Homo sapiens: one gene and its partner. The gene in region 1 interacts genetically with each later gene. Each region holds a gene or a part of one and is shown on either strand. Other genes may lie near its edges. The genes, in order: DDX19A and ARID1A.

Region 1 (15,594 bases):
CTTTCTTTTTTTATTTTTGAGACGGAGTTTCGCTCTTGTTGCCCAGGCTGGAGTGCAATGGCGCGATCTCACTCACCGTAACCTCCACCTCCCGGGTTCAAGCGATTCTCCTGTCTCAGCCTCCTGAGTAGCTGGGATTACAGGCGCATGCCACCACGCCCGGCTAATTTTTGTATTTTTAGTAGAGATGGGGTTTCACCATATTGGTCAGGCTGGTCTCGAATTCCTGACCTCAGGTGATTCGCCCACCTCGGCCTCCCAAAGTGCTGGGATTACAGGCGTGAGCCACTGGGCCTGCCCTCTTCCTTTTTTTTTTTGGAGACAGAGTCTCACTCTGTCACCCAGGATGGAGTGCTATAGCACATTCTCGGCTCACTGCAACCTCTGTCTCCAGGGTTCAAGCAATTTTCCTGCCTTGGGATTGCAGGCATGAGCCACCGCACCTGGCATGTGTGAGTTCTTACCACCTCAGGGAAATCCAAACAGTCTCTCCTAGAAAGGAATAGTGTCACCAACCCCACCCATCTCCCTGAGACCATCCGACTTCCCTGTATACAAGGATTTCTGGCTCTAATTGGGCCTGGGACCCCGAGCCTGGCAGACCAGGTGGGACACGTCCTCTGCTCACCGCGGGCACACACGTTGGTGGTCACCAAAACCTTCTCTTTGCCCTCTCGGAAGCGCTCAATCACCGCAGCCCTCTGCTCCACCATCATCTCCCCACTCAGCAGAGCCACCTGGTGGCCTTCTTTTGAGAGCTCTGCTGCCAGCCAACTAGCTGTTTTGCGAGTCTGGAAGAAAAAAAACAATTGAGAAATGAAAGTATTTGAGTATATATTTTTTCTTTTTGAGACACAGTCTTGCTGTCACTCAGGGTGATCTAAAAAGTCCTGGGCTCAAGTCATTATCCTGCCTTGGCTTCCCAAAGGGCTGGGAGTACAGGTGTGAGGCACCACGCTCAGCTGAAGATATTTTTGATCTGGAAGACTGTACCTGAAACTTAGCAGCTAAAAGCTAAATTTCTTAAAATTGTAAACCCGATATAGTGCAACAGGAAGTAACAATGTCACCTGGCTTGTAATCTTACGAAAATATTTGTACCTGGCTGGGCATGGTGGCTCACACCTGTACTCCTAGCACTTTGGGAGGACGAGGCACGTGGATCGCTTGAACTCAGGAGTTCGAGACCAGCCTGGGGAACATGGCCAAACCTGTCTCTACAAAAAATTTAGCTAGGCATGGTGGTGTAGGCCTGTAAGTCCCAGCTACTTGAGGGAGCTGAGGCAGGAGAATCGCTTAAACCTGAGAGGTCGAGGCTGGTGAGCCAAGATTGCACCATTGCACTCCAGCCTGGGTGACGGAGCAAGACCTTGTCTCCAAAAAAAAAAAAAAAGAAGAAAAGAAAAAAAAAAGAAAATTTATACCACAAAAATATTTAACCTGGGGCAAGATACGGTGGCTCACGCCTATAACCACAGCAATTTGGGAGATCAAGTGAAGGATCACTTGAGCCTAGGAGTAAAAGACTACCCTGGGGGCCAGGCGCGGTGGCTCATGCCTGTAATCCCAGCACTTCGGGAGGCCGAGGTGGGCCGATCGCGAGGTCAGGAGTTCAACACAAGCCTGACCAACATGGTGAAACCCCGTCTCTGCTAAAAATACAAAAATTAGCTGGGCGTGGTGGCATGTGCATGTAATCTCAGCTACTCAGGAAGCCGAGGGAGGAGAATCGCTTGAACCCGGGAGGCAGAGGCTGCAGTGAGCCAAGATCATGCCATTGCACTCCAGCCTGGGCAAGAGGCGAGATTCCGTTTCAAAAAAAAAAAAAAAAAAAAAAAAACCAGATTGGCCGGGCACGGTGGTTCACGCCTGTAATCCCAGCACTTTGGGAGGCCGAGGCGGGCGGATCACCTGAGGTCAGAAGTTTGAGACTAGCCTGACTAATATGGAGAAACCCTGTCTCTACTAAAAATACAAAATTAGCCAGGTGTGGTGGCACATGCCTGTAATCCCAGCTACCCGGGAAGGCTGAGGCAGGAGAATTGCTAGAACCCGGGAGGCAGAGGTTGTGGTGAACCGAGATTGCACCACTGCACTCCAGCCTGGGCAACAAAAGCAAAACTACATCTCAAAAAGAAAAGACTACCCTGGATGCTTCAAGATGTCATTGTAATGAGAGGCAATAAAATAAAGGTGAGGAAATTCTTCTAGATTTAGGAGTCTTAAGAGACATGACAACTAAATGCAACAAGCAAAACTTGACTGGCTCTTGGATTTAACAAAACAAAAAGCAATAAAGATGAGCTGGGCACAGTGCCATGTGCCTGGAGTCCCACCTACTTGGGAGGTTGAGGTAGGAGAATTGCTTGAGCCCAGGAGTTTGAGTCCAGCCTGGGCAAGATAGTGAGACCGTCTAAAAAAAAAAAAAAAGAGTATTTTTTGGCGTCAGGCGCAGTGGCTCATGCCTGTAATCCCAGTACTTTGGGAGGCCATGGCAGTTGGATCACCTGTGGTCAGCAGTTCAAGACAAGCCTGGGCAACATGGTGAAACCCCCTGTACCAAAAATACAAAAATTAGCTGGGCATGATGGCGGGCGCTGGTAATCCCAGCTACTCTGGAGGCTGGGGCAGGAGAATTGCTTGAACCCAGGAGGCGGAGGTTGCAGTGAGCCTAGATCACACCATTGCACTCCAGCCTGGGTGACAGAGCTAGATAGACTCGGTCTCAAAAAAAAAAAGAATACTTTTGGCACAAGTGGAGATAGGAGAACGTGGATTATATTTGAGAGATATATTACTGTTATCACTGTATCATTGCATTGTATGTTTCCTTGTTTTGAGACAGAGTGTTGCTTTATGACCCATGCTAAGTGCAGTGGCGTGATCACAGCTGACTGCAGCCTCTAACTCCTGGGCTCAAGGGATCCTCCCACCTCAGTCTTCCGAGTAGCTGAGACTACAGGTGTGTGCCACCACATCCAGCTAATTTTTTTTAAGTGTTTTAGAAATGGGGTCTCCCGACGTTGCCCAGGCTGGTCTCAAACTCCTGGGCTGAAGCAATCCTTCTACCTTGGCCTCCAAAGGTGTTGGGATTACAGGCGTGAGCCACTAAGCCTGGCCTCTTTTTTTTTTTTTTTGAGACGGAGTCTCGCTCTCTCACCCAGGCTGGAGTGCAGGGGCACGATCTCAGCTCACTGCAATCTCCGCCTCCCAGCTTCAAGTGATTCTGTTGCCTCAGCCTCCCGAGTAGCTGGGATTACAGGCATGCACCACCACACCCAGTTAATTTTGTATTTTTAGTAGAGACGAGGTTTCTCCATGTTGGTCAGGCTGGTCTCCAACTCCCGACCTCAGGTGATCCGCCTGTCTCGGCCTGCCAAAGTGCTGGGATTACAGGCATGAGCCACCGTGCTCCGGTGTCTCTTTTATTCTAAAATCATTTTGACATTTTCTTCAGAGATCTTAAATATTTATTTTTTCTATTATCAATGAGATCTATGCTTCCATTTTCTAAGTATTTGTTGTTTGAGACTGGAAAACTATGTGTGTGAATGTTATGACTATCTTGTTGAACTTTTTTTTTTTTTGAGACGGAGTCTCTCTCTGTTGCCAGGCTGGAGTGCCGTGGTGTGATCTCGGCTCACTGCAAGCTCTGCCTCCCGGGTTCACACCATTCTCCTGCCTCAGCCTCCCGAGTAGCTGGGATTACAAGCGCCCGCCACCACGCCGCGCTAATTTTTTGTACTTTTAGTAGAGATGGGGTTTCACCGTGTTAGTCAGGATGGTCTCGATCTCCTGACCTCGTGATCCACCCATCTCGGCCTCCCAAAATGCTGGGATTACAGGCATGAGCCACCGTACCCGGCCATCTTGTTGAATTTTTTATTTTTCTTACAAATATGAGTTGATTCTCTTGGGTTGTGCAACAATACATCATCCACAAATAAGACATAAAGTTCAGGGGCTCTATCTTTAGGCTATGTATCCCTTGGGATACTACCATTACCCCCACTAAAGGAGAGCCTGTCTCTTACATCTTCAAAAAGCACTTCCCTTCTTTCCATGGCGCTCAGGGGCATCCAGTCCTCCTGAGCCCTGTGGGGAGCTGGCTGAGAGGGAGGGGCCAGGCCTGCCACTGCCGCTGCTACTCACATGGCAGAAGATCATGGCTTGAGCAATGGTGATGGCCCCGTAGAGGTTACACAAGGCCTGGAACTTCTCGTCTCTGCTGCTGCACAGGACATAGTACTGCTTGATGGTATCCAGGGTCTCTTCCTCACGCTTCAGTTTGATAACATTTGGGTCTGGGACCACTTTCTGGGCAAACTTCCACACAGAGTCTTCAAAGGTGGCGGAGAAAAGCAGCATCTGGCAGTTCCTGGGCAGCATCCTGCAAGGGAAGGCCCGGGTAGATGGCCCCAGGTGGCCCTGGGAAGCAACGGAAGCACAGCCTCCCCAGCTGGGAGGGTCTAGATGCCCAGGAAGGCTGATGGGGGAGGAGCATCTTGGGGAGGAGGAGCAGCAGGCCTGGGATGGGGACAAGGGTTGGGGAAGAGTCCCTAGGTCTCCTTTCTCAACCCAGGTTGGGAGGGACTGTGATCAGCGCTGACATGGAAATGGCCCGTCAAACAAATGCTGCTGAGAGTACGAGAGCCAAGACCCAGGCAGAAGCCAGAGGAGGCGTCTGAAGTGAAGGGAGAAGACACTGCAGATGGGGAGTCTGAGGAGTCCCCCACCCTCGAGATCCCTACCTCTGGATGCGGATGCTCTGATCTTGGTGGCCCTGAGTGGCTATCATGACATCAGCCTCATCCAGAACAAACACCTTGATTTTCTTGGGATCAATGAACTTGAGCTTGGAGCACCAGTCCAGCACGGTCCCAGGGGTGCCAATGACAATCTGCTCACTGATCTTCTGGCCTCTTTCCACTGTGGAGACCCAGGTGATTTTCATAGGTATTTCAAAGGCAAAGCCAGCTCTGGAAATCAAAGCCCTGCCCATCCTTCTAGGACTAGGAGAACAAGTTATTTCCAGATTTCAAAACACACATGAGTGTTCCCCTCAGTCTTGGTCTCTTCTGCTGTGAAGTGGGCAGAATGACACCTATCTCAGTGCACTGTGGTCAGGATCAAATCCCACACAGCAATCCTTCAATAAGCATCAGTTCCCTTCTTCTTCCTCCTATAATCCAACATCATCCAACTCTTTTTATGTTTATTTATTTATTTATTTTGAGACAGGGTCTCACTCTGTTGCCCAGACTAGAGTGCGGTGACACAGTCATGGCTCACTGCAGCTTTGACCACACAGGTTCAAGCGATCCTCCTGCCTCAGCCTCCCAAGTAGCTGGGACTACAAGCTGGCACTTCCACGCTTGGCTATTTTTTTTTTTTTATTTTTTGTCTTACTATGTTGCCCAGGCTGGTCTCGAACCATGTGCTCAAGCAGTCCTCCCACCCTGGCCTCCCAAAGGGCTGGGATTGCAGGTGTGAGCCACTGTACCTGGTTTTGCTTACTTTTAAAGAAAGGGAGCTGACCCCAACCTTCCATCCTCAGTCCTGTTAATCCCTCTTTGGTAGCAGGTCCCAGAACTCTGGACGCTAAATTCAAAACTCTACCTTCTGAGCGAAGAACTCTAGATATTAAGAACTCTGTGAGCCATGCGTGGATTTTTTTTTTTAATCAACCGAAAATCTTATTTTAAGACTGAAAAAGACTGTTAACAAATTAGCAGGTATTCAAATAGATTCAAATAGAGCAACACAGTTAGGCTCCAGGGTCAGACTGAATTAGAAAGTTGAATACGGTCATCGCATCTTCAAAATTCAAACGCCCAACCCCCTACCCTGCTCACTGTTCAGTTGTCGCCTGCCGTACTCACATTTATTGCCTCGAACGGCATAGGCAAGCTTCAGTTCTGGGTAAAATTTGCCCATCTGCTCAATCACTTTTCCTGTTTGAAGCGCCAGCTCATATGTTGGGGAGAGGCACAGACACTGACAGAAAAATCATAAAGGATGAGTTTAGGAGAGCCATTTGGTAACAGACCTGAAGGCACCCAGTATGCTGATGTTATTAGCACTTGAATAGCACAGGGAAGCATGTCCTCCCATCCAGGCCCACCTTTCAGCCATAGACTGAAGCCTGCAGCAGGTAGCCCTGGCTTGGCAGAGGCCTTTGCAAGCCATGGTCTAAGGCTGCTGCTTTCAAGCACATTCTCCCAGGTCAGGGCCTGGTGTAGGAACTTGCTCTGCCTGAGCCACAGCCTAAGGTGTCAGAAGCTTCAGACCTCTCGTTACTCCTCACCAGATGGCACTGCGCTCCCCAGGGCAGGCAACCTAGGACACCCAGCCCCGCAAGCCCTCACCTGGGGGTATCTGTCTGATGGCTCCACTCGGCTGAGCATGGCTAAGACAAAGGCAGCTGTTTTACCAGTGCCAGACTGAGACTGGGCAATCAGATTCTGTGGGCTGGATCAAGGAAGAACAGAAATGAAACTTAAATTGGTGAAACTCAGTAACATGTCAAAATGTTCTTTCTGAATGAAAGGCATATTTCCCCCTTCGTGCTTCTCTATATTACCCAGGTTTTCTCCATTGAGCACAAATTACTTTCATACATTTTTTTATACGCTGTTAAAAAGCTGCTTAAATTGTAAAATAAATGATTATTTTAAATGGGCTCACACCAAGAAATTCTCATTCTAGCCTCTAGCACAGCTAAAGGACCCCAGTTTTGCACCCCAAGGGGCACAGGGAAATCAAGTGTGCAGAGTAAGATCTGTGCCCAGACAAGACCCCAGCAATATTTTTGGCTGAGCCATGATGCATTCCCAGAATTTGGTTCCTTCTGTGTGTGCCTTTCCCCAGTTTTATGGACAAGATGCTAAGTCAGGTGGATGTTTTAGAGGGAACTTTTACATTCCATTTTATGGGACCCAGCATCATGGGAATAGGTGGCATGGTTGTCATTAAAAAAGATAAATATGGCTTACGCCTGTCATCCCAGCACTTTGGGAGGCCGAGGCAGGCGGATCACAAGATCAGGAGATCGAGACCACCCTGGCTAACACAATGAAACCCCGTCTCTACTAAAAATATAAAAAATTAGCCGGGCGTGGTGGCGGGTACCTGTAGTCTCAGCTACTGGGAAGGTTGAGGCAGGAGAATGGCATGAACCTGGGAGGCGGAGCTTGCAGTGAGCAGACGTTGCGCCACTGCATTCCAGCCTGGGCGACAGAGCGAGACTCCATCTCACAAAAAAATAAATAAATAAATAAATAAATAAACTAAGGTGGGCAGATCACTTGAGGTCAGGAGTTCGACACCAGCCTGGCCAACATGGTGAAACCCCACCTCCATTAAAAATACAAAAATTAGGCTGGGTGCGGTGGCTCACGCCTGTAATCCCAGCACTTTGGGAGGCTGAGCCAGGCAGATCACGAGGTCAGCAGTTCGAGACCAGCCTGGCCAACGTGGTAAAACCCCATCTCTACTAAAAATACAAAAATTAGCCAGGCATGGTGGCAGGCACCTGTAATCCCAGCTACTCGGGAAGCTGAGCCAGGAGAATCACTTGAACCCGGGAGGCGAAGGTTGCGGTGAGCTGAGACCGCGCCATTGCACTCCAGCCTGGGCAACAGAGCGAGACTTCATCCCAAAAACAAACGAACAGACAAAAAAATACAAAAATTAGCCAGGTGTGGTGGTGTGCGCCTGTAATCCTAGCTACTCAGGAGGCTGAGGCAGGAGAATCACTTGAACCTGGAAGGCAGAGGTTGAAATGAGCCAAGATTGCACCACTGCACTCCAGCCTGGGCGACAGAGGAGACTCCATCTCAAAAAAGAAAAAATGATAAATATGCCAGGTGCAGTAACACATGCCTATAATCCCAACACTTTGGGAGGCTGAGGCTGGAGAATCACTTGAGGCCAGGAGTTTGAGACCAGCCCTGGCAACATAGTGATACCCTGTCTCTACAAATTTTTTTTTTTTTTTTGAGACAGAGTCTTACTCTGTCGCCCAGGCTGGAGTGCAATGGTGTAATCTTGGCTCATTGCAACCTCTGTTTCCTGGGTTCAAGCGATCCTCCCACCTCAGCCTCCCTAGCAGCTGGGATTACAGGTGTGCGCCACCAAGCCCGGCTAATTTTTTTGTATTTTTTGTAGAGACGGGGTTTCACCATGTTGGCCAGGCTGGTCTCAAACTCCTGACCTCAAGTGATCCACCTGCCTCAGCTTCTCAAACTACAAAAAAGTTTTTTTAAAGTCAGCTGGGCATGGTGGCACATGCCTATAGTCCCAGCTACTCCGGAGGCTGAGGTGAGAGGATTAATTAAGCCCAGGAGGTCGAGGCTGCAGTGGGCTGTAATTGCACCACTGCACTCTAGATGGGGAAACAGAATGAGACCCTGTCTCAAAAGGAACTTAGTCTTGTCAGGGTGGGAGAAGGATGTGGAAGGAGGGGAATTCAGGGGCTTCAACTATCAACTGGACCTGCTTCCTTTCTTGGCAGGATAGGGCTACAGAGGTGTTCTTGGTATTGTTCTTTACACCTTTGTGTAGGTCTCAAAAATTTCCAAATAATATTTTGTTTGTTTTTGAATTTATTGCAACACCATTCACATCAAAATAATATTTTTTAAACCCAGTTTTTTTTTTTTTTTTTTTTTTGAGACAGAGTCTATGTTTCCCAGGCTAGAGTGCAGTGGCATGTCTCGGCTCACTGCAACCTCTGCCTCTGGGGTTCAAGCAATTCTCCTGCCTCAGCTACATGACCACAGGTACGTGCCACCATGCCAGGCTAATTGTTGTATTTTTAGTTTAGTTTTTTTTTTTTTTTGAGACAGGGTCTTGCTGTCACCAGGCTAGAGTACAGTGGCACCATCTCGGCTCACTGCAACCTCTGCCTCCCGGGTTCAAGCAATTCTCCTGCCTTAGCCTCCTGAGTAGCTGGGACTACAGGCACATGCCAACAGGCCTGGATATTTTTTTTTTTTTGATTTTAGTAAGACGGGGTTTCACCATGTTGCCCAGGCTGGTCTCGAATTACTGAGCTCAGGCAATCCGCCCACCTTGGCCTCCCAAAGTGCTAGGATTACAGGTTTGGGCCACCGTGCCCAGCTAATTTTGTATTTTTAGTAGAGACAGGGTTTTGCCATGTTGGCCAGGCTGGACTCAATCTCCTGACCTCAGGTGATCCGCCCGCCTCGGCCTCCCAAAGTGCTAGGATTACAGGAGTGAGCCACCATGCCCGGCCTTAAGCCCAGTTTTTAAGATAGCATGGAATAAAGCACTACCTTTCTCTATAAGTTTCTATTGTTAAGTGGGAAAGGCAGAAACTGTAGCTAACTCCATCCGATTCTCTCTGCACTTGCCTAAGCTGTATTCCTGAGGAAACACGTGGCCCCAAACAGCTCCTTCTGTTCTCAGGCACAAAAACGCAGTTTGGGGAAGATTGATCTAATCACACTGGGTGAGATGCGCTTCATCTGCATACTCACGGTTCAGCAAGCATCATGGGTAATGCGTTCTCTTGTATCTTGGAGGGTCGATTGAAGCCCATGGCATAGACTCCCTGGAGAAGCTGTGGTTTCCTAGGAAGCCAGGAAGACAGAGGATGGATGCCTAGAAGTTAGAATTGTTTTAGAGGCCTAGAATCTTATCTTTTTCTATAGAAAGGAATGATGCCTCCTACCTCTGTCAGACGTATTTTCCTATGCCTTAAAAAAACACTGTCAAAAACCAAACCAAATCAAACCAAGCTACCGCCCTTCCCTAAGGAATCTTAATCTGCAACTATTCTATAATTCATAAAATACAGAATGGTTTCTTTTCTTAGAGAAATTAATGCTTTCAGCAGACCCGCAAATCTGGCTGGCCTTGGAAGACAAGTGTTCCCTGGACACAGCAAGGGTGGTGGTTATTAATTCATAGCATTACATAAATTATAAAAGATATATCTAAAAACAGGTCAGGTACAGTGACTCATGCCTGTAATCTCAGCACTTTGGGAGGTCAAGGCAGGCCAACTGCTTGAGGCCAGAAGTTCGAGAACAGCCTGGGCAACATGGTGATACCTCGTCTCTACAAAAAAATACAAAAAATAGCTGGACACACCTGTAGTCCCAGTTACTCAAGAGGCTGAGGTGGGAGGCTCACTTGAGCTCAGGAGGTCAAGGCTGCAGTGATCTGTGACTGAGCCACTGCACTCCAACCAGGGTGACAGAGTGGGACTCTAAAGTAAATAATAAATGAAAATAAACACTATTTACTATACTGCTAAGATTTAGAAGTCCTTTTGTTCCATGTTCCTTCCAAAGCCAGCTATGCAAATACTCCAGACAATCAATAGGTAAGGAAATTGATGGGCTGGGCGTGGTAGCTCACGCCTGTAATCCCAGCACTTTGGGAGGCCTAGGTGGGACGACTGCTTGAGGAGTCCAGGCGTTCAAGACCGGCCTGGGCAACACAGTGAGACCCTGTCTCTAAAACAAAACAAAACAAAACAAAACAAAAAAGAAAAATGAGCTGGGCATGGTGGCATGCACCTGTAGTCCTAGCTACTTGGGAGATTGAGGCAGGAGGATTGCCTGAGGCTAAGAGTTAGAGACTATAGCGAGCCATGATTGCCCCGCTGCACTCTGGGCTGGGCAACAAGGCCAGGTCATCTCTTAAAAAAAAAAAAAAAAAGAAAGAAAGAAAGAAAAAAGAAAAAAAAAATTTTTTTTTTTGAGATGGAGTCTTGCTCTGTTGCTCAAGCTAGAGTGCAATAGCGTGATCTTGGCTCACTGCAACCTCTGCCTCCTGGGTTCAAGCGAGTCTCCTACCTCAGCCTTCTGAGGAGCTAGGATTACAGGCGCATACTGCCACACCTGGCTAATTTTTGTATTTTTAGTAGAAACAGGGTTTCGCCATGTTGGCCAGGCTGGTCTTGAACTCCTAATCTCAGGTGATCCACCTGCCTCGGCCTCCCAAAGTGCTAGGATTACAGGCGTGAGCTGTAGCGCCCGGCCATAAAAAAAGAAAATTGATGAAGCCAGTTTCTAGTAGCTGATATACAGTAAATAAAGGTGGTTCGATTAACCTACTAAACTTTACAAATGCTCAGATTCACTTAGGTCTAATCAAAATAAACAGACAAACACTAACTACTTCTTTCTGAGAGACGTTCTCACTCTGTCGCCCAGGCTGGAGTGCAGTTGTGTGAACTGGGCTCACTGCAACCGACACCTCCCAGGCCTCAAGAGATCCTCCCACCCTTGAGTAGCTGGGGCTGCAGGCACATGCCACCACACCCGGCTAATTTTTTTTTATTTTTTGTAGAGATAAGGTTTCACCATGTTGCCCAGGCTGGTCATGAACTTCTGAGCTCAAGAGATCCACTCACCTTAGCCTCCCAAACTGCTGGGATTACAGGCGTGAGCCACCGCACCTGGACACCAACTTCTTATGTAAACAGCTACACAAGAATTATCAATTTAAGTTGCTCTTACATTGCATTTACAATCAGCTCTCTGCTACCTCTAAATTGACAAGATGTTTAAGAAAAATCATACCAGATTGTTTCTAAAGAAAAGGCAACCCAACTGTTCTCTAAGCCTTCCTTGGAGTTTAGCAGGCTCTCTAAAAGGCAAATTCTCTGGCGTATGTTGGTTCTCAGACACAAAGAAATTTAAAAACATAATCTTTCATATCTTCCATTTGGGAGAAAATGCTGTGACACTCGGCAGCTTCTGACTTGGTTGCCAAGGAAACAAAGTCACTACCTTAATTGGGACTCAAATGATCCAACAGCTTCCACTGACTCAGTTTTCTTTGATTTTGCAGATTAACTCAAATATTTTAGGTACAAAGCAGACCAAGTACATTAGGTGATCTTGGTTTCATTCTTTGTTTCCTTTTCCTACCAACAACTAAATCAGAGAGAACCTGTCTTTTACAGAGGACAATTCATCAGTGGTTAAACTGAGAGCTCACGTCTTCTAAAGGGAAGAAATTTAAAAAGGCAGTTGATACTTGGAGGAGCAAACTGTCACTCTAAGGAAATCATACCACATGTCTAGCTGTCCTGATACAGCTTAAAAATAAAAGTGGAGATGACAGATTTGGTGAATAAAGTCCTTGACAGAGAAAACACATAGAAAAGCATAATTTCCGTTTGAGAAGGAGTTTCGCTTTTATCTCCCAGGCTGGAGTGCAACGAACGGCATGATCTCGGCTCACTGCAACCTCCGCCTCCTGGGTTCAAGCAATTCTCCTACCTCAGCCTCCTGAGTAGCCGGGACTACAAGCCATGTGCCATTACAGCCGGCTAATTTTTTTGTATTTTTAGTAGAGATGGGGTTTCATCATTTTGACCAGTCTGGTCTCGAACTCCTGACCTCAGACAATCCACCTGCCTTGACCTCCCAAAGTGCTGTGATTATAGGCGTGAGCCACCGTGCCCGACCTAAAGTATAACTGTTTAAAAATACATTTTTGGTCTGGCCTGGGCAACATGGTAAAACCTCATCCTATTAAAAAAAAAAAAAAAAAGTTATTGGGCCAGGTGCAGTGGCTCACACCTGTAATCCTAGCAATTTTGGAGGCTGAGGCAGGAGGACTCTTTGACCACAGGAGTTCAGGAGCAACCTGGCCAACACAGTGACACCACATCTCTATTTTTAAAAATAAAAAAATAAGGCTGGGTGCAGTGGCTCATGCCTGTAATCCCAGCAGCCTGGGAGGTTGAGGCGGGCAGATCGCTTGAGGCCAGGAGTTTGAGACCAGCCTGGCCAACATGATGAAACGCTGTCTCTACTAAAAATACCAAAATTAGCCAGGTGTGGTGGCTCAGGCCTGTAATCCCAGCTACGTGAGAGGCTGAGGAACGAGAATCGCTTGAACCCGGGAGGTAGAGGTTGCAGTGAGCCAAGATTGTGCCACTGCGCTCCAGCCTGGGCAACAGAGTGAGACAGTCTCAAAAGTAAATAAATAAATGAATAGAAATAAAAAATAAAAATAAAAAATTGTTCTTCAAGATTACTTAACAACTAGTTAGCTTTCTTGTTTTAAGTGTCTCTTTCTCAGTGGTAATAGCTGGAAGGAATGTGGCTTCAATTTGTCCATAGTGGCCATACTATAGATTTTGCTGAACTAAGGCAAAGAATCCATTGATTCCACCATATTCTTATTCATCAGCTACTTTCTATGATTGTGATCCTGGCAGGCAGCAAGAATAATAAGTAGGTCTTGTGTTCCTTGTAACATCCAGCACAGTGGCATGTATATAACACAATGATCCACACTTAATCCTCTATTAATTTACTGAAGTAAACCTAAAACGTAAGGCCGGGCACAGTGGGTCATGCCTGTAATCTCAGCACTTTGGGAGGCCGAGGCGGGCAGATCATGAGATCAGGAATTCGAGACCAGCCTGCCCAACATAGTGAAACCCTGTCTCTTCTAAAAATACAAAAATTAGCTGGGTGTTGTGGCACACGCCTGTAGTCCCAGCTAACTCGGGAGGCTAAGGCAGGAGAATCGCTTGGACCTGGGAGGTGGAGGTTGTGGTGAGCTGAGATCACGCCACTGCACTCTAGCCTGTGCAACAGAGCACGACTTGGTCTCAAAAAAAAAAAAAAAAAAAAAAAAAAAAAAAAAAAACAAACCAAAAACAGATTTGACAGATTTTTTAAAAAGCAGATAAACTGTAAGACTGTAAACCCTATAGTCTAAATATACATATATATATATATATATTTTTTTTTTTTTGAGAGAGAGTCTCGCTCTGTTGCCCAGGCTGGAGTGCAGTGGCACGAACTTGGCTTACTGCAACCTCCGCCTCACAGGTTCAAGTGATCTCCTGCCTCAGCCTCCGCCTCCTGAGTAGCTGAGATTACAGGCCTGTGATATCACACCTGGCTAAGTTTTGAGTTTTGTATTTTTAGTGGAGACAGGGTTTCACCATGTTGGTCAGGCTGGTCTTGAACTCCTGACCTTGTGATCTGCCTGCCTTGGCCTCCCAAAGTGCTGGGATTACAGGTGTGAGCCACTGTGCCTGGCCTTTTTTTTTTTTTTTTGTAAAAAAAAAACAAATAGCACATGTTCTCACTTAAGGGCTTACCTAATCAGAAATGTTCCTGACATCCAGAAATCACCTGTCAGCCAATATTTTATTGAAAGTTCTAAGAGTATAAGAGAAATAAGACTTTTAGCTATGATAAATCAATTTGAAGCATTAAAAAATTCCTACCAAGAGAACAGGATAGCCAAGGACACAAGGGTGGGAGATTAATACTGCAAATTTTTTCATACTTTTTGACTTTTGAATCATGTGACTTATTCATGTGACTTCTTTTCAAAGAAAAAAAATAGCCAGGCACGGTGGCTCACGCCTGTAATCCCAGCACCTTGAGAGGCCGAGGCAGGCAGATCACCTGAGGTCAGGAGTTCAAGACCAGCCTGGCCAACATGGTGAAACCCCGTCTCTACTAAAAATACAAAAAATTAGCTTGACATGGTGGTGGGCGCCTGTAATCCCAGCTACTTGGGAGGCTGAGGCAGGAGAATCGCTTGAACCCGGGAGGCAGAGGCTGCAGTGAGCTGAGATCACGCCATTGCACTCCAGGCTGGGCAACAGGAGCGAAACTCTGTCTCGAAAAAAAAAAGGAAAAAATACACTAAATTTTTAAAAGTAAAATTCTCACAAGAATCTCTCAGATGCTAAGTTTTATGTGGGGAGAGACTGGCAACGAAGAGCTGTTGAAAGGAGCGAATACTCACAGCCGAAGCTCTTCAAACGACTTCACCGAGTACAGAGGGGAGTTTGGATCCCGTTGCAGGACTTCCACTTGGTTTGTGTTATCAACAAGGTTGCTTCTGATCAGCTTGTTGAGTAAGGACTGGGCAGCTCTGTCCTCTGTCAGGAAGAAACCAGTAGATCTTCATACTCATCTGGCAAACCCCAGGCTTATGAAGCCACTCTTTCTCCCTCTCCACACTAGCACCTGGGCAGTCAAGCACGGCTGGAGAAAAACCATCACACTGATAGGTCTCTATTTATTTATTTTAGAGATGGGGTCTTGCTGTCACCCAGGCTGGAGTGCAGTGGAGCAATCAGAGCTCACTGTAGTCTAGAATTCCTGGGCTCTGGCAATCGTCCCACCTCAGCCTCCCAAGTAGCTGGGAGTACAGGTGTGTGCTACCACACCCAGCTCATTTTGAAATCTTTTGTAGAGATGGGGTCTCAGTATGTTGCCCAGGCTGGTCTTGAACTCCTGGCCCAAAGGAATCCTCCCACCTCGGCCTCCCAAAGTGCTGGGATTACAGGTGTGAGCTACCGCTTTCGGACTTGTTTTGTTCTCCTCCTCTCACTGACTATTCCTTCTCTGATTCCTCTCATCTCCTGGATCTTGTAGCTTGGAGTGCCCCTGGCTCCAGGAAGGCAAGCCCTGGGTCATACCGTCTCTTGCCAAGGGCATCCAAAAGTAGTTACCTTTCTCCTCTTCATCTGTTTTCTCGGCAGTGGTACTGGTTTTGATAATACCTACACAAGAAAACAATTGTCATAATTAGAAAGGCAAATATGAGAACCACCAAAAATGTGGGACA
Region 2 (15,594 bases), on another chromosome or scaffold:
ACACCCCTGGGTTCTCTGCTGGCTAGGTTCTATTTACTTCTCAAAAGCAAATTACTCACAGCTCACTGGCCAGCAGTTCTCTTGGCCATGGTAACTCCAGTCAGAAACTGGAGACCAGGCTAGGCTCTCCCTGCATTGCAGGAGAGCAGATGAAAGGAACCCAGGAAACCGAACTCCTAGGTAATGCTCCACACACAGCCCAGATATGCAATTTCTAGACTAGCAAACGGAGCTCGAGGCCTAGAACAAAAATAGCCATTAGCAATATTGCTTACCAAAATTGTAGATATGAAAAGCTTCCCATTTACCTTTTTCTAGAAGAATCCTAGGAACGCATCTTGGTTGACAAAGGTTTTCCTCTCTCAATTGAGAAATACTAATTATTCAAATCCTGTTCCTGACCCAAATATTAACAGCCACACTTAGTCTGATGAACACTTGATTGAAATTCTGAGGACAATTTTACCTCGTGCTAAAGACAATAAAAACAAATCTTGCTTGCTGAGCTCCACAGCTAGATCCCTTACTCCTGGGTTGGGTTCTCATCCAGAAAGGAGGTAGTGTGGTATATTAAGAAAAGCATGATCCTTGGAGTCAGGTGGAACTTGCTTGGTGTATGAACTTAAAAAGCCTTTCACTTTTCTTAGCCTCTTTCTTCAACTGTAAAATGGGAGCCACATACTGACTTCACAGGCACAGGATTGTTGTAGGATTGTGATGTGCTATGTCCAGAATATAAGTAGGTACACAATAGAAAACTGTTGTTTCTTGTTTCAAATTTCACTTCTAAGTGTCCACAATGATAGCATTTTTTCTCTTTCTGCTTCTGATTTCTCCTGAGGAACTTGAGGCTTCTCTATTGTTTCCCTAAGGAAGGGGGTGAACAGAGAAACTATATATTGTGACATTAGCCTCATAAAAGCAACTGCATCTAGCCAACATCGACAGTATCATTCAACTACTACTTAAGTAGATGCTATGTGCCAGTCTATGTGTTAGCACCAGGATGCAGCAGTGAACAAAACACCCCTCCCACCACCCTCAGTTTACATTTCAGTGGAAGGTGACAGGTAAGTACAACACACAACAGGCCAGACAGTAACAAGTGCCACAGGAAAAATAAGGCAGACAAGGGAAACATAGTGGGGGGCAGAGATTGCTATTCTAAGTAAGGTGACCATGAAAAGCCTTACTTATATATTTGGACAAAGACTTGAAGCAGTCGAGGACTTGAGCCATGCAGTTATTTGGTGAGAGAGTATAAAGTACAAAGACTCCAAGGTGGAAACATCTCTATACAGTGGGGTGAGCAACGGGCAAGACAGATGGTGCAGGAAAGGTAGAGGTAAGCTAGATAACTCAGGGCCTTGTAGGCCACTTTTTAAGAGTCTGGATTTTTACTTACTGAGTCAGAAGCACTGAAGGCGTTTGATCTGACTTACCTTTTATAGGGGTCCTTTTGGTTGCTCTGTTGAGAATAGGTTCAACCAGGCAAAGCAGAAGCAGGGAGGCCAATTTGGAGGTATTTCAAGAATCCAAGATATGACAGTATCTTGAACTACAGTAGTGTGGGATTGAGGATTATTTTATGAAGAGTGCTAACAGATTGGATGTGGAAGTGAAAGAAGTCAAGGATTTTTTTAGCCAAGTGATAGAATGGAGTTGCCATTTACTAAAAGGAAAACACAAACAAAAAAACCAAAACTATGGGAGAAGCAGGTTTCTAGTGGGGGAAGACAGGACATTTTAGCTTTGGCATGTTCAAAGTAAACTTCCAAGCAGGGATGACAAGAAAGGTGGCTGAATGCTCTAGTCTGGAGTCAGGGAAAAGAGCCAGTCCAGAGATATTATAAGTGATTAAGTTGGAGATTGCCTCCAGATAAATGGTTGTCTTATTTTGGAATATAGTAAATAAATGACAGGGTCCAGGAATGCCACTATTTAGGGGAGATCTCACACTAAGGGAGGTTTGCAAAAACAGGACTATCCCCCTGCCCCCCGACAAAAGGTCAAGTTTTAGTTTGAAAACAATAAAAAGCTTCACAAAAGTCTTACCAAGATTTAATGTACATTTATTCTTAACACGTGGAACATATAGTATAAAGATTTCATACTGAATAAATGATATTCATTAAGCCAAAAAAGGAAAAAAAGGAGGAATTTACATCAAGTTTTAGCTACATTGTTGAAATACAAATATGCAGATTTTATCACTGAAAAAATCTCAATTGTGTTTCTTCATCAGAACTTCAACTGAACCTAGAACTTTTTCACACCTCGATTAGAAAGAAAACAAAACAAAACAAAAACCCAGAAAAAAATAAACTATAAGTTGATTGGCTGCTGAGACAGCAAGGACTTTTTACAGAGACCTGTACAGCATCGCACCAAGAGGGGCGATATCTGGCAAGAGATTAAATAGCTGTGTCTCGCTTTGTGCAGGTCACCAACTTGTTAACTCGTCATACTATAAAGGGGTAGCTGGGAGGAGGACCAAACTGTGGGGATCCAAGGGTATGTGCAATGTACAACGTCATATATATACACACGTGGCAGCGTAGCCGCTGCAGCTAAAGGTTAAAACCAGTTCTAAGAGGTGATCTCAGGGTTATTCATACAATCAAGGAGGAGAGAAAGAGGTCAGGGTGTTGTAGGTTCACACATGATACTTTGGGGGAAAAGCCTTTTTTTTTTTTCTCCTCAACGTTTAACTAAAAACATTTTTAAAAACTACAGCTTGCTGCTGACCCAGCGTTTTCTGTTTCCATGTGAGACATTATTATTACAGTATGTTTACAGTATCAGGTGTACAGTACAGTACATGAAAGGGTCTACACTCTACTGCACAGGCCTCTCCAGTGAACAGGGTCTGTTCACAACTGCGAACTTCTTGGCTCCTGCAAGATTGTGAATGTACAACAATAAACCACACACAGTTCAGCAGTCACCTTTTTTGTCCTTCAGAATTTTTTTTTGTATTTTTTTTTTTTTTTTTTACCATTAAAAACAGTTATGAAATGTGGCATCCCGTTGATGCAAGGACTGGGAAAGCCATTTTTATTTTATTTTTTTTCCCCAAACTCACTGTAAACAACAGTAACTTTGGTTAAAATAAAAAAAGTCTTCTATGTAGGCAGAGCTTTGTCTTTTCAAAGAGGGTGGGGTAGGGTCCTGAGGGGAGTAAGGTGAGGACAAGGAACAGAAAGGCGTGAGGTGATGGAGGGAGGGGAGGTGGAAGGAGGAGAGAGAAACAGGAGAGACTTTTTCCCAAGGGAGAAGCTGGACAGCACAGGGTAAACTGGATTCTGAGGTGGTTTTGCATAAATAAAGGGCAACAGTCAGTTTCTAAGTTCTCCACACACGCACACACACACGGGGGGGGGAGGTGTCCCACGGCTGTCATGACTGGCCAATCAAAAACAGTACATCACAAATGACTTGTGAAACCAATGAGTTCATCAACGGTGATACCGAGATGTCCAACAGCCGTGATTCGTACAGAGTAAACTCTGAGTGGTTCTCGTCCACCTTGGCCAAGGCAAGCAGCGCGCGGGCAGCCCGCCGCATCATGTCCACACTAGTTGGCTCAAAGGGTGGGTTCTGCATGTGGAGGAGGCTGGCCTGGCTCTGCTGGAACTGTGTGGCGGCAAGGCTGTCCTCTAGGAAGCCCAGGAGGTTGCCGATACTGCCCTTCTGCACTGCAATGGCACGAGCTGCCAGGCTGTCCCCCTGAGCCAGGTTGGCCAGCAGTACCACAGCCATCTCCCGGCACACCGGGTTCTTTCGGTCACTGAGGAAGCGCACCATAGTGCTATACAACTTCTCCAGGCGGCTGAAGGGGGGTGTGGCCAGAATCAGGTCCACATTGTTGTCCTGGATGCTGAGTTTGCTGAGGGTTTCCAAGACCAGTCTCTGCGGGGAAAGGACGGCATTGGGGCCCAGGGTGGAAAAGGGGTCCTGGGCTTCAGCTGAAGGGCAAACTGCCCAGTGTAGGAGTCCGTCCAGGACAGGCAGGCAAATGCTCTCGGGGTATGGAGATAGGTCCAACTGCCCCGAGATGTTGGCGAGTGTAACCAAGGTGTTTTCCCGGAGCATCTCCAAGCAGTCCCACCACCACTCCACTTTGTTGCAGCTCACCCCTTGGTCCTGTTCCTCCTCCTTTTCATAAGTTAGTGGTGCCTGCTTCCGTTCTGGGTGCTTGTGGTGCAGCAGGATCAGCTTGCCCAGGATGAGCAGCAGCCCTGGGTGTTTGGACATCTCAAAGTCATTGCCTGGCACAAATGACAGGCTTCGAATGGTATTGGACACACAGACGCAGCGCTTGGCAAGAGAATCCTGCCAGTCCAGAAGGGTACACAGTGGGGTCTCATCCTTACTGTGGGGTTCGTCCTCTAGGATCTTGATGTTCCGGTGGCTCTGTGCTGGGCTAATGCCAAATGGAAACTTGCTGCTCTCCTTGATGGCCTCTGAACTCTTAGCTCCATCCTCGGTCAAGGTGCTAGACCGAGTAGACAACATGTCATCCATAGTGGCTGTGATCCGTTTTTCTGGAGGTCCATCAGGTGGGGGCCCCTCCTGGTCTGTTGTCCCTGGTGTACCCTCTGCTGTTGTCACATGCTTCCGAGGGGCTGGTGGGCAGGGTGCGTGAGGCCGGGAAGGCAGCAGCTCTGTCTTGCTCTCGAAGTGGGTCTGGATATGCTCAGTGGTGTCCCCCCCACCAATCCGCCAGTGCAGCAGGCCACTGTCAAACTCCTGCACACGCCCAAGCTTATCTGAGCAGTCCACCACAAATGGATCATTCTTCTGTACGATCTTTACTGGAAGCTTGTCAAACTTACTGATCAGCTTCTCCTCACTATTCTCTGAAGCTGGCTTGTCCTTGCCTGAAAAGGCTATCTCCTCATCATTTTCAACTACTTCCTCTTCTTCTTCCTCTTCTAGTTTAGGACCTAGAAGTTCTTCTTCTTCTTCCCCACCCTCCATGGGAGCTGGACTAGACACCTTGCTGAACCTCCCAGGATCCAGTAGCGTTCTCTGTCCTGGGTCACCCACCTCATACTCCTTTAAAATGCCAAAGATCTCAATCAGGCATCGTCGGAAATATTCTACAAGGAGCTCTAGCAACCCTGGGAGCTAAAAAGAGAAAGAACAGGAAATAAATTAAGGGAGAAAAGTGGCCTAAGAACAGAATTATTGACTTGAGAGACCTCCCCAAGTCTTCTGTATCAGTTGGGAGAGGCAGAGTTGCTCCTTTCCCAAAGGTTCTCCACAGAGCAAATTGTTCATCTTAATCTCTTCTATGCCCAACACAAAGTTCTTTCTTCTGCCCAACCTACCTTCACGTAAGCCTATCTCCAGGAACACTAGCCAACAGCTTTGCACCTCACCCACCAGGGCCAATCATCTCTTAGCCTTCTCTTTTCCCAATTAATCTTCTGCTTTTCTTCACCAGGCCAGTTTTCAACCTGGTGGTCATTGCCATTATCTCTTTTAGGACACTCTCTCCATCTCACTGCCAAGTGGAACCCAAGCTTAGGCATGGTGACTTAAGCTAAGAGAAGAGAATGCCATGTGGGCAGATGTTCATGGCTCTCTTCTCCAAGCTCCCCACAAGTCCAGGGGGCTGGAACTCCATGGATCTTGCAGCATAAGGAGTGGGACGAGGCTTCAGCTCTCCAAACACTGGTCCAAGCTGGTGCTACAGAGACCCAAATTCCACCTTGGATAATATATAGGCCATTTATTTACCTCTAGAAGAAAACACTCCTCTCCAGTCACAATCTTTGGCTGAACAGTAGAGCAGATGGAAAAAAAAATAAGGGCTTTCGAATTAGATCTAGGGGCTGGAAGCAGTGGCTCACACCTGTAATCCCAACACTTTTTTTTTTTTTTGAGATGAAGTCTCACTCTGTCATCCAGGCTGGAGTACAGTGGTGTGATCTCAGTTGGCTGCAGCCTCCGCCTCCTGGGTTCAAGCGATTTTTCTCCTGCCTTAGCCTCCCAAGTAGCTGGGATTACAGGCGCCTGCCACCACATCGGGCTAGTGTGTGAGAGTGTGTGTGTGTGTATTTTTTTTTTTTTTTTTTTGAGACAGAGTCCCGCTCTGTTGCCCAGGCTGGAGTGCAGTGGCACGATCTCAGCTCACTGCAACCTCTGCCTCCTGGGTTCAAAGTGATTCTTCTGCCTCTGCCTCCCAAGTAGCTGGGATTAGAGGTGTGTGCCACCAGGCCCGGCTAATTTTTATATTTTTGGTGGAGATGGAGTTTCACCATATTGGCCAGGATGGTCTTGAACTCCTAACCTCAAGTGATCCACCCACCTTGGCCTCCCAAAGTGCTAGGATTACTGGCGTGAGCCACTGCGCCCAGCCTAATTTTTATAGTTTTAGTAGAGATGGAGTTTCACCATGTTGGCCAGCTGGCCTCAAACTCCTGACCTCAAATGATCCTCCTGCCTCGGCCTCCTGAAGTGCTGGGATTACAGGCGTGAGCCACTGCACCCAGCCAGTAATCCCAACACTTTGGAAGGTTGAAGTGGGAGAATCACTTGAGCCTAGGAGTTTGAGACCAGCCTGGGCAACACAGTGAGACCCTGCCTCTATAAAAAAATAAAGAAGTTATCCGGGGCCTGGAACGGTGGCTCACACCTGTAATCCTAGTACTTTGAGAGGCTGAGGTAGGTCAATCACTTGAGCCCAGGAGTTTGAAATCAGCCTGGGCAACATGGTGAAGCCTCATCTCTCAAAAAAAAAAAAAAAAAAAATTAGCTGAGCATGAGCATGTTTGCACGCACCTGTAGTCCCAGCCACTTGGGAAGCTGAGGTGGGAGGATCACCTGAGCCTCGGAAGTTGAGACTGCAGTGAGCTGTGATTGCACCACTGCACTCTAGCTTGAGTAATGGAGACCCTGTCTCAAAATAAATAAATAGCTGGACATGGTGGCATTTGCCTGTAGTCCCAGCTACTCAGGAGACTGAGGCAAGAGGATCGCTTGAGCCCAGGAGTTTGAGGCTGCAGTGAGCCATGAGGGCACTACTACACTCCAGCCTAGGTGCCAGAGTCTCTTAAAAAAAAAATTCTGGCTTTTCCAGGAAGTAGCTGTATAAAATGATAAAAATTCCTAAACTTTACAGGGTTGTTCTGAGGTGTAAATGGGAGATGTCAAATACCTGGCATATGAAAATTGCTCTATCAAAATTTTTCCTTTCTCATGGTAGGCAATATTATGCAATGGAAATAAAATCAGGCTTAGGAATCAGATAGATTCTACTGACAGCTATGTGAACCTCAACAAGGATAAGACTGAGCCTATTTACTCATCCCTAAATGGCCATACCTCCTACCTCTGAGGGCTGTTGCTAGGATGACATGAAACAAAATATTAAGGACCTGGCACAAAATAAGAGCACGATAAATGGTAACTATTAATAAGTCAGCTCCTTGATATACAGGTTGGTAGGTACTAAAGATGATCAAAAGAAAAAGAGTAGGATGATGCAGCACAAACTCTTTCCAGCACCTCCACTAGTGTGCACATCCTATGGAGGGTGGGTCTGAAGAATCAGCTTTGTAAGAATATTGTAGGGCCGGGCGCGGTTGCTCACGCCTGTAATCCCAGCACTTTGGGAGGCTGAGGCGGCTGGATCACGAGGTCAGGAGATCGAGACCATCCTGGCTAACACGGTGAAACCCCGTCTCTACTAAAAATACAAAAAATTAGCCGAGCGTGGTGGCGGGCGCCTGTAGTCCCAGCTACTTGGGAGGCTGAGGCAGGAGAATGGCATGTACCCAGGAGGCGGAAGTTGCAGTGAGCTGTGATAGCGCCACTGCACTCCAGCCTGGGCGACAGAGAGACTCAGTCAAAAAAAAAAAAAAAAGAATATTGTTAAACAATCAAATCCCCCATCCACTCTACATCTAAGGAAAACTGGGATCAACAAAGGCCCCTACTGTTCAGAGAAGAAAGGGAAAAATGGAAAAAACATACTCTGCTCACTGATAAAAATTTGACCACAGATTCAGGCTGGGCCTGGTGGCTCATGCCTGTAATCCTAGCACTTTGGGAGGATCACTTGAACTCAGGAGTTCATGAACCTCGGCAACATAGTGAGACCTCGTCTCTATTAAAAAAACAAAAAAACACAGATTCTTCTAGAAAATGTGGTGTCCCCACTGGCATCGATTGAATCTGAATTCTTACTAATACCACAAAGTGTCTCCCAAATTCCTTTTGAAGTCAATCCTGTGTTAAGGTTATCATGTAAACAAATTATTATTGCTGTCAAAATCCTGGGCCCGTGCCCAGAGGCAAAGGAAGCAAAGTACTGGCATGGAAGATATCTACAAGAGAGAAAGAGAAAGACCAAGGTGGCTAAAGATGAGACATTCCCATTGTCTACACTAAGAAGATCCCAAACCCTCTCAATCTTCCCCAGGCACTGATACTCACCTGACTGAGGTTGAAGGTCATGATGCTGTTGTCATCATACAGCAGGATGTTGATGGTATCTAATGCCCATGTGCTCTCTGCCAGGAGACCAGACTTGAGGGACATCATTACCCGCCATGCCTCCGGGGTTCCTGAAATAAACCTCCATGTCGTCTATCCACCAAGCCCAGGTTGGCTGGAGGCACCCCTAGGGCTGCCCCATCAGTGAAGCTACTCTGAAGATAACACAAGGTGGAAGGCAGTTTCTGTCTGGGAGATGAAACACACCAGCCCCTCATGGCTTCTAAGCTGTCTGTCTAGGACTTCATTGCATGGCAATGAAGGAGAACCTTTAGTTAGCTTATTTCTTCCTTTTCCAAAGTTCTTTGGTTCTATTTTAGTCAACACTGGACCAGATTCAACCTCATCCAGAATAGTAAGGTGGAGGGAACAATGGACAAGATGGAAAGGGGCAGATTAGGCAACCGAATGAGGAAGATCTCCTTACCAATGTCTTTCATTGTGAGCCGCCTCCTCTGCTTCAACACAGGCTGTGTGGCTTCAACAGAGCCAGGTGGGAAGGTGATATCCCGCCGAATCATGGGGGGCTGCACAGGGGCAGGTGCTATGTGCGAGGCAGGTACTGGGGGACCTGCCTTCTGCATTTTCATCCCAGAGTGCAGGAATGGAGACTTGCTAGGAGAGGTGCGGTTCTCCATTGGCCGGGGCAGGGGAGCAGGGCTGGATACCTGAGGAATGTGATTCTGCATGCTTGGTGGGGGCTGGTAGTTAGATGGAGGGGGCCTTGTCATGGGGGGCACAGGGGCAGAGGGACCATATGGGGGCTGGCGTGTGCCATGGGAAGGCCACGAGCCTTCGTGGTTGGCCCTCTGATCTGTGTGCAGCATTTCATCTGTTCGGTTCACGCCATGATAGGCGGGGCCCTGGGGGGCAGAGCCCGTGCTCTGCCTGTTGGCATAATTATAGGTCATGTCATTACGCCCCTGCCACATGGTGCCTTGCTGAGCAACCTCAGCTGATGCCTGTATGGGGCCGCCCATCATTTGTGGTGGCATGTTTTGCTGGGCATTGGTGCCAGGGGGTGCAGAGACACGGTCTCGGCCAAACTGGAATGGAAATTGGTTCTGGGGGCCGCCTGCTGGTCGGCGCTCAGTAGCAGCTGTGGCAGTGGCAGGATAGGCATTGCCATACTGGTTGTATACATCTTGCTGAGGGGAAGGCTGGGCAGCTTGTTGCTGGCTGGCAGGCTGGGGCTGGGCTGGGGGCAACTGCTGCTGCTGAGGCTGCCCCTGCCCAGTGCTGTATGGCACGCTGTACATCTCCCCTTCGTGCCGCTTGGCAGGAGGGCCATATGTGCCATCCATTGGCCGCTTGTAATTCTAAGGCAGAGACAAGCAGAGGGGAAGTTAATACTCTGCACTCAGGGACATAAAGCCCACAGATGCCAAGATGGCTACAACCAGATGCTTGGTGGACACAGACTCCAAGAAAACATGGGAATCACCTTAACAAATTGTCTTTTGAAGTTGTTTCCAAAAGCAACCACCACTCTTTCTTCCCTTCCCTTGCTTAAGTAGAAAAATATACAAAACCTAAAAATCAAAATAAGGTCTATTTCTAGCCCCTTCCAACTCCAAATAGAGAAGAGATTGAGGACGTGGCTCTTCAGGCAGGACTGGCCAGTCAGGTGAGAGAAGAATGCCAAAATATCTAAAGTGAGCTTCTTAGACTTCAACACGTTAGATTAGTTTACTAACTAGTTTTCAAGGCGAACCTGCATGCCAGTCCATTCCCAGCTACCCTCCTCACCTGCTGTTGCTGTTGATACATTGTAGTCTGCTGGCTGGGGAAGGGGCTGCCAGAAGGGGTGCCTTGGGTGGAGAACTGATTGCCATAGGAATCATGTCTATAGGAGGCAAAGAAACACAGGATTAGGGTGGGCAGTGGCGAAGCCTGATCCATAGCAGCACCGAGACCAGGCTTTACTCACCGTTGCTGCTGCTGCTGCTGCTGCTGCGGGGGGTAGCGGCTAGGAGAATACATCCCCGAGTCTGGGTTGGAAGGCATGAGATTCGGCTGTGGGGCCCCAGTGCTCATGTTTCCCTCAGGCCCTATTCCAGGCTCCGTCCTAAACAAAATTGGAGAGGCAGATTGAGCCCACTATAGCTTCAGGGTGCTGGGGGAGTGGACAGGAGCTGGGGTCATGCTTACCTCACTCTGTCATAAGGACCTCCATAGGGATAGTGCTGTCGTGGTCCCATCGCCACATTTCCTAGCCCAGGGCCGGCAGCACGACTGTAGGGGTCACCCATCCCGCCGTTGGGGCCCTGCCCTGAGGACATGAAGGGATCACTCCCTGGAGCTGAGCGTAGAAAGGCAAGCGGTGAACAAACTGGTAAGTTGACAAGCCTGGTAATCTACCCTTTGACCCAGGCCCTCTTCAGAGTTCAGGTTTGATCTCATTGTTTTCCAGACAAGTTCAAAACAGAGATCTAAAGAGGCCCCAACCAGCGAAAAGCATGTACTTATTAAGGGATGACAAGGTGAAGCCAAGGAGAAGACAAGAAAGGAGGTAAGGATGAAGAGGGGTAGTTAGGGCAGGAAATGCATTATCTCAGAGGATGGCTCCACAAGAACCCTGAGCCATTCTCAAGATTTCCCCCCATTTCACTGGCCCTGTCTTTACGAGCACAAGTTCAAATAGCAATCAGATCAGTCACCTTTCCTCATGCTGCCATAAGGATCCTTATTTGGCTCATAGGACATGCGCCCCATCATGTCAGAGGTATTCATACTGGGCTGATACCCAGGGTTTGGAGTCATGGAATTCCGCTTCTGGAATGTGGAGTCACTTCCATCATTAAAGGCATCCTGGATCCCAACTGAATTGCTCCTGCTCCAGAGTGAGGAAAACCAAGTAAACCACAAATAAACCAATTCCTCCAATATAACAAAGGACACGCAGGAGTCACTGGCTGGGAAGGCAGAGGCAAGGACCACCTTGGGCTGCAAGGAGTTCCCATGCACTTATCTTCAGCCATCCTCCCAACCATCTGCCCCTGCTCTTGGCCTTACCTCATGCCTGGCAATGGGGGGATCTGACTGTGTGGTGTGGATGCTGGAGTTGGTGGCTTTAAGTCTCCTCCTTCTGCCATGGAACTGCTGGTTGACTGGGGAGTCTGGGGCCCCTGCATAGATCCTGATCCCGCTGTGGACAGAGATACAAGTTGAGTAGTTTGCTTGGCATGACAGTGTTTAACTCTCACACAAACACACGAACGACCCAGAATCTCTTTGGGAAAGTTCTTCCTAAGGCCTTTAAAGCCTGATCACCCTTCTTAGCAGAGGATCTACAAGGCCAGGTCATAAAGACGGGAATCTGAGGGTTTTGTAGCTCTTTGTTTTTGTTTTACGTGTAGAAAAGAGGAGTGATGTGGCCATGACATCACCATGCTGGTGATTCCCTGAGTCATTGCCAGCTTCCCTGGCTATTTCTCTTCACTCCGCCAAAGGACCTTGTCTAACCTACTAAACCCTGTAATGCTGGTGCATGAGCTCCAGTCAGAGCCTCCCAAGTCCTGGGTGGGAAGGGGGTCCCAAATCTGGGATGCATTTTAGGAGTCTAGGAGCTCCTGTTCTAAAGCATCCAGCATGGTGTCACTCCTCAACTTCAAATGTTCTTCTAAGCTGATGAGTACAAAACTACTAGTAATTAATGTTTCCAATAGTTACCATTCCCAGCAGTAGATATCCCACTGCTGAGGCCTCCCCAGCTGATGAGTCATCTCAGGCACTCATTACACCCTCAGAGGTCAACACCAGGGCACATGTGTTTACACCCACCTTCCAGGCACCCTGGCCTTCTTCCCTCTCTAGGCTCACCCTAGGCCTCAGCCTCCTCTCAGAAAGGAGGGTGAGCAGAGCCACTCCCATCAGGGAGTTCCATTCATAACCCTTCCCCACTCCCTCCTTCCCATTCATTACCATCTCAGCTCCCTGGGGAATTCAGGGCTCTAGTCTGAGCTGCATTCTAAGGTGCTGACATCAATAGGCCAAAGCTCCCAGATGGCCCTGCCTTGCTGCCATTTATAAGTTCCACCGACTCCTCTTGTGCCCCTCCCATTCACCAGTTTACAAACATTTGGCAAGTTGTCAGCTGCACAACAAAAATTAAAACTTAAGAGCTGCCGTAGAGTACCTCCCAAGGGAGTTTCCACTGCCCACTCTCTAGTCAGCCAACCTGTTAAGCCCTGTGGTAGGGCAAGGCAGAGCACAGATCCTTGGCATATCCTGTTGGATAAGCCTCTTATTCATATCCTGAATAAGAGGCCAGGGCAACAGGCCCTCTCAGCCTTGGTGGGGCCGCTGACCCCATCCTTACCAGGAGAGGGAGGCTGGATCTTGGGCTGGGACTTCTTGGAATCAGCAGCTGCAAAGATGTCTGGGGGAGGGTCTTCTCCCCGTTCAATCTTGCATTCAAAGGCATAGAGACACTGGATATACTGCTTTTTCAAGGAGCTGGCAGCACTGCTTGATGTGCCCACATTGAGGTTGGTTGCAAGTTCCCGCCATTTTTTGTTCTTGTTGACCTGTATAACCAAACCAAAGGAGTCGAGGTATATCTCCCGCCTGGTTTTCCTGCCCATAAGCCCCAAGCCCCATCAGGCTGTAAGGTATTCATCTTTGTAGAACCACAGTTCTTAGGTAATTGAAAAAGTTAATCTTGCTTGGTGGATAGTCCACAAGAAGTGTTAAATCTGCAGCTGGCTTCATTTTACCCTCAGGATGTTCCACTGCAACTATCAGACTGTGCTTATTCACAACAGGGCAAATTTCACATTACTACTGGAACAGAATTCAGAGTCCGGTTTTTTAGTACGCTGCTAAAAAGTGGTGTACAAATCATCTGGATATCTAAATCCTATTTTATTTATTTATTTTTGAGACAGAAAAAATAAATCTCGCTCTGTCGCCTAGGCTGGAGTGCAGTGGCGTGATCTTGGCTCGCTGTAACCTCTGCCTCCCGGGCTCAAGCGATTCTCTTATCTCAGCCTCCCGAGTAGCTGGGATTACAGGTGTGCACCACCACGCCTGGCTAATTTTTGTATTTTTAGTAGAGACGGGGTTTCACCATGTTGATCAGGCTGGTCTCAAACTCCTGGCGTCAAGTCATCTACCCGCCTCAGCCTCCCAAAGTGTTGGGATTACAGGCGTGAGCCACCGCGCCTGGCCCTAAATCCTATTTTAGATGCACTAATAAAAACTAACATTTTATAAAATGGAGACTCATGATAATATCAGTGACCACCCTGCTTGACTTGCTTTGTCAAACTTGGGATTTACTCATATTTTTTTCTTGGGGTGGTGGCTCCCTGCAAATTTGACATTCTTGTGCCACTGCTCCCCTACATATCTCATTGACAAATAACCACAGGTCCCTTTCCCTTACCAGTCACTGTCCTGATGGTCCGGGTGTTCAGGGTCTTATTTATTTAGAGACAGAGTCTCACTCTGTCACCCAGGCTCGAGTGTAGTGACGCCATTTCGGCTCACTGCAACCTCCGCCTCCCGTGTTCAAGTGATTCTCCTGCCTTAGCCTCCCAAGTAGTGGGACCACAGGTGCCTGTCACCACACCCCACTGATTTTTATATTTTTAGTAGAGACAAGGTTTGGCCATGTTGGCCAGGCTGGTCTCAAACTCCTGACCTCAGATGATCCGCCCGTCTCGGCCTCCCAAAGTGCTGGGATTACAGGTGTGAGCCACTGCGCCTGGCCCGGGGCCTTATTATGACTTTTGTACCTCCCGAGCAGCCAACCTACAGTTCTGCCTCCTTCCCTCAGCTTCAGGGCACACTGACCAAGCCCATTCCCCAGATGCTCCCTACAATTAGTCTTTCTGCTCTAGCTGGACAGGTCTCCTTCTTCATGTATTCTTATGCTTATTCATCTACCATATGGTAAGCCTGTTCCCCCAAGGCCTGGGAACAAGGGTTTTCAAGTCCCTATACACAAAGGAAGTTCAATAGGTTGTAATGTCTGCTGATATGATACCTATGATACTAGAAAGAAGAGTTTAAAGAGGCACAGAGGGGGACAACCTAGAGGGGCAGAGGTGACTAGGAATACTTCTTAGAGTGGGTAACACCTGAGCTAAGTCTTCATGGTTGGAGATGGCCTTGGTGGGAAATATCTAGACTCTCTCCCATCTCCGTGGCATCTAGGCCAGTCTACTGGATTGGCCACTCTTCCACCTAAACCCTACTAATCCTTTAGATAAGCTCAAGATTCAGCTTTGCTTTCTTGGAGCCTTCACAAACTAACTTATAAATAGCACTCTTTTGCCCCTGAATTATCACTGCCTTTATAAAAGTTCAGTTACAATCACGGCATTTTAAAGGTTTGCATCCTTTTCCAATCTGGAAGACAGGCTCAGGCATTAGAATTCTCTCTGTACCTCATCCTAGGTTCAGTGAACCCTGAAGCCCACCCAATCAGAAGTGAGCGAAACCTAACCCAATGCTCCCTTTCCCTATAGACAGGGAAGGCTTGACTATGAGATCTGAGTATCAGGGAGAATGGCAGGAATATGCATGGAGTCACCTCAAAAGCCTTCCGTGGCTTTGCTTCTCATGCCAGTTATGTGGCAGTATGCACGTGTCTTATTTTGTTTTGTTTTCCTTTGTGGGGGAGGGGAATAAAGCCTGAAGGGAGAAGGAATTCATAACTGACTGTTGGCTGGCTTCATTCCAACCACTTTCTTTTCTGCTGGTGACAGCTGTTTTCCTCTTCTGATTTAGAAGGTTTGGAATAAATCCCTCCCTGCCACACCTCCCCGAGCTCAGCCACAAACTGATCCAACAGCAGGCTTCTGGTCTGGTGACTACAGAACATACACAGGAGGGAAGTCTGCAAGGCACAGTCTGCTGTCTGTCTGTGCTGCCTCACCTGTTTGCTTCCTGGGCTGAGTCTACAAAATTGTAAGGTATCAGAGTAGGCACAAGCTCTGGGTGGTGTCCAATTCAGGTTTTCATTTAAGTTTCCCATACAGAATAACTAAACACATAATTTCCTACTACTTCTTCCTTTATTATAAACTATTTCTACTAAGCAGTTCCTGAAATCCTATCTCTACTGGGAAGCTTCCA

What was found.
Region 2: changes in DDX19A (region 1) and ARID1A together harm fitness more than expected from each alone (negative genetic interaction), as found in Homo sapiens cells (2 studies listed by BioGRID).

What each region holds. Positions count from the first base shown.
Region 1 is NC_000016.10:70,355,420-70,371,013, reverse strand, and holds part of DDX19A (ATP-dependent RNA helicase DDX19A), read right to left. Parts: intron 15,530-15,594; coding exon 15,479-15,529; intron 14,903-15,478; coding exon 14,767-14,902; intron 14,169-14,766; exon of another isoform or gene 14,131-14,168; coding exon of another isoform or gene 14,108-14,130; intron 9,597-14,107; coding exon 9,504-9,596; exon of another isoform or gene 9,378-9,503; intron 6,472-9,377; coding exon 6,369-6,471; intron 5,998-6,368; coding exon 5,883-5,997; intron 5,082-5,882; exon of another isoform or gene 5,003-5,081; coding exon of another isoform or gene 4,930-5,002; coding exon 4,752-4,929; intron 4,391-4,751; coding exon 4,153-4,390; intron 792-4,152; coding exon 629-791; intron 1-628. UniProt on the Homo sapiens protein: ATP-dependent RNA helicase involved in mRNA export from the nucleus.
Region 2 is NC_000001.11:26,768,562-26,784,155, reverse strand, and holds the end of ARID1A (AT-rich interactive domain-containing protein 1A), read right to left. Parts: intron 13,038-15,594; coding exon 12,830-13,037; intron 11,657-12,829; coding exon 11,524-11,656; intron 11,345-11,523; coding exon 11,169-11,344; intron 10,811-11,168; coding exon 10,660-10,810; intron 10,577-10,659; coding exon 10,439-10,576; intron 10,355-10,438; coding exon 10,258-10,354; intron 9,828-10,257; coding exon 8,936-9,827; intron 8,580-8,935; coding exon 8,449-8,579; intron 5,134-8,448; coding exon 3,400-5,133; 3' UTR 2,052-3,399; downstream 1-2,051. UniProt on the Homo sapiens protein: Involved in transcriptional activation and repression of select genes by chromatin remodeling (alteration of DNA-nucleosome topology).